Regions from separate parts of the Homo sapiens genome. Here region 1 is linked to region 2. Evidence: fine-mapped expression QTL. A gene starts in region 2. The other region holds a variant in brackets. All regions are shown on one strand. Distances are between the middles of the regions.

Region 1 (4,397 bases), 55 kb after region 2:
CTCAAGGAAATGTTCAAAACAGTAATGCCCTAATGATTTTACTGATCTCTATAGCTTCATTATAGAGTCAAGTTTCTGGGAAAGCTACTTCCCTACAGAAAGTTTCCCTTCATTCTCCTGTACAATGTCTTCTTGGCATTTCTTTTTTTTTTTTTTTTTTGAGACGGAGTCTTGCTCTGTCACCCAGGCTGGAGTGCAGTGGTGCAATCTTGGTTCACTGCAAACTCCACCTCCCGGGTTCAAGCCATTCTCCTGCCTCAGCCTCCCAAGTAGCTGGGACTACAGGCACCCGCCACCACTCCCAGCTAATTTTTTGTATTTTTAGTAGAGACAGGGTTTCACCGTGTTAGCCAGGATGGTCTCGATCTCCTGCCTCGTGATCCACCCGCCTCGGCCTCCCAAAGAGCTGGGATTACAGGCATGAGCCACCGCACCCGGCCTCTTCTTGGCATTTCTAATGTGCCACGTTTCCAGTGTGCCTCAACTCAGGGTATTTCTCAAGAGTCACTCAGGGCCAAACTGCATTAGCCTATTGCATTATGAGTTAATTTGTCCTAGAAGGAAAGAATTCAACTCTGGTTAGGGAGAACAACCAAATAATTTTAATATATGAACTCTCTATGGTACCAGGTGCTGATAAGAATACAAATTAGGAGGAGGATATAAGTCTTCTATCTCCTACACTGCCTAAAACAGCATCTTCAACACAGCAGGAACTCAACGTTTATTCAAATAAAGTAATTATGATATTGCCTATACTTTTGACAGTTTTGTTTTGCAAGATCCTAGGATGTTTCTGCCTCCTCTCTCCCACATCTCTCCTATTTAAGCTTAACAAGACACAGTGGCAGTGGGTTGAATCTGCAGAGGAGAATGGCTGGTTATCTGTAACTGGACTCTGCACACCGTGGCACTCTGCCTACAAGTTCACAAGGTTCATCACATCATAGGCCATCAGAGCTGAACCTGTCCTTCACAGATGAAGACATTGAGGCCTACAGGTCACAAAGCTCGGAAATAGCGGAGCCAGGACTCAAATCTTCTGGTTTAAAATGCATTGTTTTTTCCACTGCCTAGTTTTCCAGAGCCAAACTATCAGTGGCACAAATCAGGAGACCAACAGTTCTCAAAGTCCTGTCAGCTAGTTTACTCCAAGAGCCAAAGGAAAGGCTCTCATCTTCACTACGCTCCCAGTGAAGGCATACAGAACTTCCAGATGACCTAACGGCATCCTACAAGGGCTGAGCATTTTGGGGAAGTGAACTGCTATTGCATGGCCTTTTCGAACTGCAAACTTCATTCTTCTCTGAGCTAGAGACTTACACTCATACTACTTATTTGCTTACAAAAGAAAGACGGAAAGAAATTAGTTTGAAAAGTACTTCAGAAAAGTTGTCTTCAAAATCATAAAATGCTACTGTCTGAAGGAACCTTAGAGACCACCTATAGTCCAATCTCATTGCAGTGATGAAGAAACTGAGGCCACAGACTAATACCAAAATGTGCCTTCCCTGGTTTCAAACTAGAGGCACAGCCCCCAAGAGAATCTATCTTCTTCTTCAATATTCTTTCCATAAAGCCAGTGGGGGTACATCAATATCATCCAAGAAGCATGATTCCTGGAACGAATCATCTTCTTGGGTCAGAATACCCCACCCACAGGGTCAGAGTACAGAATGTGTATTTTGTAAACCTCCCTCCGGTGATTCTGACAGGCAACACTGCTTAAGAATCCATTCTCTTCCCCATCCTTTTCTTTTATTAAAAGATGACCCAGTAGCTGACTTAACATATTACTGACACCCAATCACCAAACTTAATGGCTACCCGGTATTCACGCAGCAGGGAAAAGACATCCACGAAGCTTTCCTGGGAAGTGTTAAAAGTCAGGGCCCAGTCACGTCACTCTACTAGATATCAATTCATTGTTCCTGCCTAATATTTATTCTTTGGCCAGATACTAATAAAAATCAAAATCTTCTACCCCACAATCCTGCAAAGAAGACAGAATTTGTTATTTGTTTTCCTGAACTATTCAAC[G/A]CTCAATACTTTTTCCAGAAGGACCATAAATCTGAGCTTTACAGCAGGAATGGGCTGTTGAGGAAAAGAAAAATCTGTTCTACCCAGTTCAAATGTTACTCTAAGGACTAAGCCTCAGCCTAGGGAGTGAAGTTAAAATACAGAAGAGACTCAGTTAGTATATTTATTCTTATCAGCTTCTGCCCCCCCACCAAAAAAAGAAAAGCCAGAAAGCAAAGCTAATTTAATCTGATTTTCTTTCATATTACAGTCTACAGAACTTCAAAGTGCAAGGTAAACAGGTAAGAAAATACTATTGTCTTTATAGCCTCCAAAAGCATTAAAGTTTATCATCAAAAACACATCACAACCCCAAAGGGAAAATCCTCTTGGGTCATTAAAGAAGTAAGAACTGAGCAACAAAACCAGACAGCCATTCCAAGCAACCAGTAGTGACTGTGAGAAACGTTTGAGGAAACTGAATCATCATTTCTTAGGAGACAAAAAGCAAACCACATACTTCCCCCAAAATTCCACTATGTGAGTCAAGAGATCCAGTATCTGAGAAGTTCGTCTCAAAAAGCTTAAGAGTCTACATTTTCCCTTCTAGCCTGGCCTTGCCAGATATGTACACTTGGTACCATTCCCCAAGCACCAACTGCTATACACTTAGCATGGGAGTATTCAGGCAAAGCATCTTTCCATCCCTGAAATAACAAAACCATCTTGGCCACAGAAAGAACACACATATGAAATGTTCCCAAGTCATCAGAAGTGCACTCATGGAAAACCACAGCTTCTAAGTTCCTAAAAGCTGAACCCGAAACACTGCTAAATGGTCACTTTATTAATGTACTTGTGGTCAGGACAAGGCATCAAGTAAAGGGAGATGCTGATTCTGTTAAGTAACAATTCTGAGCACCTCTCTTCTGAAATACATATTTAAAAGTATCAGGAGCAGCTTATACTAGGAGAGAAGACTAAATGCATAAAACTGAATTCAATAAGCAGAGGAACACACTGAAGGACACAGAGATAAGAGCAATTACCAGTTTTGTAGGAAAATAGACTCCCAGCCTAAGGCAAGTAGGTAAGATATGGGGGGAAAAATATGCAAATTTGCACATGGAATGTTGCTAAGTTTGCTATGAACTCTCAGAGTCTGACAATAAATAGCTAAATGACTTACTGTGCACATGTATACAGGTTATATTTCAAAGCACAAATGAGTTTCATCATTCTCTAAAACTAGAAATGATAATTTCTTGGATAATAAGCAAGATCTAGTGGAAAAGATCCCGTATTTCTCACACAGAAAGAAGTCTTAACTTCTCTGAGCATATCACGATTGGGGAAGGGCAGAGGTTAGCTGACTTCTCCAGTCCCATACTTATCTTACTAACAGAATTCTCTATCTTTGTCTGGGAGTTAAGACACTTAGACTTTTCATAACCATTTGTGGAAATTCCTTCCCTACAACAGTCATGCTGCTATTAGAGATGAGGAATACTGAATATTTGCTGAGAAGTGTAACCTAACTAAAGCTATTTCTCTAGAGATTTCCAACACGTAAGCCTGCTCAAAAGAATAAGCAGGGACCTATCCCTAGGTCTCTGACTGACCTTCAACTATATAAACACCCTTTGGAAAGTGCATCTTCGAAATTACCAAGAACCTACTTTTAAAAGCTGAAGTAAGCAGCTGAGTAAATTTAATTTAAAATTAATACTTGGAAGAGTTTCAAACTTTGTGGTATCTATTGAAAGTGAGCAGGAAAGTGTGCTTCTGTGATGTTATACGTATATATTGGTTTGCATCCATGGTTCCTGGTTCATAACCCCCATAGCCCTTGTTATAGTCTTCTATTATAATGCTGGGGCACTTTGGGCCTCAGGAAACAGAATCTCTCTCAACCTTCTCCTGTCCTCTTTTACCTGCCTCAAAGCAAGACTCTAGTCCAACTGTGGGCCAAAAAACCCTCATTCCTGGGAGGGTTGTGCCCCATATTCTGGAGGAAGGAAGGCTGCACAGAAAGGCCAGCGACAACCTGAACAGACAGGCCTTGCTGGGTTTCCGGTCAGTCTATTAGTATGAGATCATGCCTCCTGTGTCCAGTCACATTTCTACATGGTTGTCAATCATGCCTATGTAACTAAGCCTCCATAAAAACCCAAAAGGACAGGGTTCAGAGAGCCTCTGGATAGCTGAACACATGGAGGTTCCTGGAGGGTGGTGCACCCAGGGAGGCATGGAGGCTCCACACCCCTTCCCCTATACCTTGCCCCATGCATCTCTTCATTTGTAACCTTTGCAGTATCCCTTAAAATAAACCTGTAAACCTAAGTAAATGTTTCCCTGAGTTCTGTGAGCTGTTCCAG
Region 2 (4,397 bases):
GCCTGACAAAAAAATAAAAAGCTGGCTAATGGGAAGTGTGAGTATGTATGTGTAAGATGCATATGGAAATAGTACCCCCTCACACCATGCAGGAGAGAATGAGGACTGGTGTCCCCATCCTGGACATCATCTAGAACTATTTTGAGATACACACCCATGGGGGGAATTGCTGGATTTATAGGGTATGGATATACTTAAGTTGCCTAAGAAACTGCCCACAGCCCAGGGAGCAATTAGAGATGTTCACTGCAGCAGCATTGTTGTTTAACTCTGTGTACGTATGTGTTTGTGTGCCCACATGCTCACGGGCTTGGGAGGTGGTGGTAGCAGCAGAAAGTTGAAGGGAACCTGAGTGTCCATCACTGATAGAACAAGAAACCCATGGCAGATTCTCATTACAAAATACTAGGCTGCAGTTAAAAGCTACAGATTGAATATACATATAGCAACATGGGTAGATCTTAATTTTCCACTAAATACTCTGTTTTGTAAGAAACAGACTGAGAAATGTAATATATTTACATAATACCATTTACATAAATTTAAAAATACACATAGACGAAACAACACCACACATTTTGCAAGAACCTGTGCAAACAAAAATACACATTAACACATTAGAGAGGCTGCTATGGGCGGTGGTGGGGGGCGGGGAATAAAAGTGGAGCACAAGAATAAAAGTTAATAGAAAAATGTGAAATGTGAGAGGACTTTTCTAATCTGACTCTAAGACTTATTATAAAGCTATAATAATCAAGACAAGGTAGTGTTCTGTCATGACAGACAAACAGATCAATGGAACAGAAGAAAGGGCTCAGAAATAAACCCACATGTATACAGTCAATTGATATTTTACAAAGGTGCAAAGACAACTCAGTGGAGAAAGGAATAACTGAGTCGCCATGTGCAAAAGTGCATCTGGATCTATAACTTGAAGCATATAAAAATATTTACTCAAAGTGGATCACAGACTAAATGTAAAACCAAAAGCTATAAAACATAGGAGAAAACTTTTGATCTTGGGTTAGGCCAAGATTTCTATGTGTACAACATCAAAATAGAAATCCATAAAAGAAACATTTGATATATTGGATTTCATCAAAATTAAGAACGTTTGCTCTTTGAAAGGCACCATAAGATAATGCAAAGAAAATATTTGCAAATCACTGCCTGATCATGTCCTTATATCCAGAATAAAACACCCTCAAAACTCGATAAGAAGACAACCCAATTTCTTTTTTAATGGGCAGGAAATTCAAACATGCTATTCAATAAAAAAAACTTATCCTTAGCAAATAAGTACATGAAAAGACATTCAATACAATTACTAATCAAGGAAACTCAAAACCACAATGAGATACTGCTACACACCAATTAAAATTTAAAAGGCTGACTATATCAAGTGTTGGTGAGGACAGAGAACTGCAACCTTCATACACTGCTGCTAGGAATATAAAATGATACAACCATTTTGCAAAACAGTATGGCAGTTTCCTAATAAGTTATAAAAGTCCACCTACCACATGACCCAGGCATTCCATTCCTAAGTGTTTACTCAAGGAAAATTAAAACATACGTACTTTCGAAGATTTGTGCACCATATTCGCAGCAGCTTTATTTGTAATAGCCAAAAGGTAAACAACGCAAATGTCCAATAGTGAATCGCTAAACAAATTGTAGTCTATCTGTACAATGCAATACTATAAAATAAATTTTACTTAGCCATAAAAGGAAGAAACCATTGATATAGGCAACAACATGGCTGAACCCCAAAACAGTTATCCTGCCTAGTATATACTCTATGGTCCATTTACATAAAATTCTAGAAAATGCAAACTAATTTATAGTGACCTAAAGTACATCAGTGCTTGCCTGGCCAGGTGGTTTCGGGAGGAAGGGGTTACCAAAGGGCAAGGGAAAACTTGCAGGGATGATGATATGTTCATAATGTTGATCTCGGTGATGGTCTCACGAGGGAAACATTAAAATTTATCAAATTGTACACGTTGAATATGTGCAATTTATTGCATGTCAATTATATCCAAATAAGAGATTTTTATAAAGAAAAAAATAGGTATTCTGGCGCCCAGGGCCACCCAGCTGTAAGCGGCGGGGTGGGATTCCAACCCAGAAGCGGGCATTTGGAGCCCTCATGCTTCACCCTAGCTCCCTGAAACAAGCACGGAGGATGGCTCTGAGCAGCGAGGAAAGTGCTGGAAGCAAGCAGGCCGAGCGCGTCCCTGGCTGGGGACGTTAATCATTACCGGAGGGCGGCCCGAGCGCGGCCCCGCCCCGGGACGGCAGCCTGCGCGCCCGGCCGCCGCCTGCCCTCTCCGCTGGCCACCTGCTGCCGCCCGCGCCATGGTGAGTCCAGGGGTGCGCGGCCGCGATCGGGGCAGCGGGGCCGGGGCAGCCGCGGGCGAGGTGGGAGCGGGAAGGGGCGGGGGAAAGTCTTTTCGAGTCCCCTGCGGAGCCGCCGGGGTCCGAAAGTGGGGTCTCTGCCCGGCTCTCTGTCGCTGGCGGCGGGGAGGGGAAGCTGAAGCCCTGAGAGGGGCGGTGGCGGGTTCGAATCCCACCCAGTTGGGAGGCCAGGCCTGCCCTGACCCCGGCCAGTGCTTGTTCCGGGACCCTTCCGGGGGCGGGGCCTACGACCTTCCTGGGCCGGGGAAGACAGTCGTGGAGGAGTCCACGGATCTCGTCCCCTTGGTGGCCCGATTCTGCTTTATACTGGGGTGGGAGCGAGAGGGAGGCTGAGTTTGCGCGCTCGTGTGCGTGCCTGTCCGCTGCCCCTTCCCGCTGGCACTCTGGGTACGGGGTCTGCCTGGGACTCACGCTCTGCGCCGGTATGCTGGCCCCAGAGCCACTCCCCGCGCCGGCTTGAGGCCCGTGCCAGGCCACGGGGGCTTGGTGGCGCTGGAGCAGCCCTCCTCCCGTGAGCTTCCCCCACCCACCCCCGGGGCGGGGGCGGGGGCGGGGCCCTTGCTCTGCTGTAAGCTCGCGAGCTTCATCAGACCATTTCTGGTCCACAGGCCTTCGGAGCAGGCAAGACTGGGAGGGCCTTTTGATAGGAGAGGGACTTGGGGGAGGGAGGATGAGTGGGGCTGTTTGTGAGGGGCGCTGAGGTCCCAGAGATGCAGGCTTGGGAAATCGGTAACCACTCCCCACACCTCGCCAGAGGAGGCAAACGGGGCAGCGTCCCCCTCTCTGTCTCCAGAGCCGGCACCTGGAAGGTTTGTCAGTTCAGCCGCAGGCTGTGCGACCTGGGGGGTTCCAGAAGGCTCTACCGAGAAAGGGAAGCCTCCTAAGAGCTCACCTGGACTCACCCACCCCTTTAAGAGCCAAGGAAGTAAACAGTGGGCTCTGATGCTTTGGCTGACTTCTGGTTGTCTAGATACACGGACCAGGCGGTCAGCCACGGGGAGAAGGCCAGCTCTGGAGTAGAGACCTACCTACTGGGCAGATGATGCAAATCGCTGCTGCCATTCAATCCCTATAGTCATCCAGAGCCGAGGGGAAGAGAGGGGCCAAGCTACATCAGTCCAGAGAGAGCTCACGTTTTCAGGAGGGAAAACAGCAGGGAAAAAAGACGGACTTAGGAAAGCACTGCGATGCTTCAGCTACCCCAAATGCTACCAGGCCCATCACAAGCCTGCTTGCCTTAGGAAGTTTTTTTTTTGTAATGCAGATGACATTTGCTTTATAGCAGTGGAGTTTCCTAAAGTGTCCCATTGGCACCTCATGATGATCTGTGGAGGTGGAGGTTCTGCCAAGAGAGGTACAGCCACCTGGCTGGTAAATGGTGAAAGCGGGTCTCAAAACTCCTGCCAATCAACACATGGTGTCCAGTCTGCAGGCTGCCTCATAAAAGCTAAATCAACCTCCCTCACATTCCCTCCCCACCCCTAAGGGTATCTTTTCAATTCAGCACTCTATTTCTGCCCTGGGGTGGTGCTACTCTAGAAGCCTAGGTTCTGGGATCTGTTAAGCTCCTAGACCTGGATCCTCCTAGGATGAAACTGACCCTTGCTTCCTTGCTTTCTCTGAGGTTCCACTCATGGCCTGAATTGTGCCAATTTGGGCTGCCTTGAGGGCACTTCGCACATTAGGTAAATAGGATGGGGCACTAGGTTTGCCAGCTGCCTTTGGCCAAGTTCCTTCCACTTTGGCCTGAGCTTCCCAACCAGCCAGAAAAGCAGACGGAAAACCAGAGAAACCTAGCCCTGGCGGCTCAGGACCAGAGGCTGCCTGGGAGCATGACTGAGGACCTACTAGAGGTAGTGCCAACGGCGGTCAGCTGCAGTGTGGCTAAGAATGGGATGGACACTTATTTTAAATGTAGCTCCTTCGTCCAGCCCCAGCAATGCTGACACACAGACAACACTGCGCCATCACTGGCT

What was found. PIP is the estimated chance that this variant, and not a neighbour inherited with it, causes the effect.
Region 1: its variant is the best candidate, but not a certain one, in a credible set for the expression of PCBD1 in lung (TOPMed, PIP 0.66).

Annotation. Positions count from the first base shown.
Region 1 is chr10:70,831,499-70,835,895 of GRCh38, reverse strand. The region is part of intron 2 of SGPL1 (sphingosine-1-phosphate lyase 1); the gene reads right to left. Among named protein-coding and RNA genes, the nearest start is that of SGPL1, 18 kb to the right of the region's middle. The variant G/A (reference allele first, on the strand shown) is at 2,041.
Region 2 is chr10:70,886,498-70,890,894 of GRCh38, reverse strand. It overlaps PCBD1 (pterin-4 alpha-carbinolamine dehydratase 1), which reads left to right and starts at 2,330. Exons shown (of 4, transcript NM_000281.4): 1 at 2,330-2,364. The coding sequence starts at 2,362. RefSeq lists silencers at 2,214-2,463, 2,794-3,073.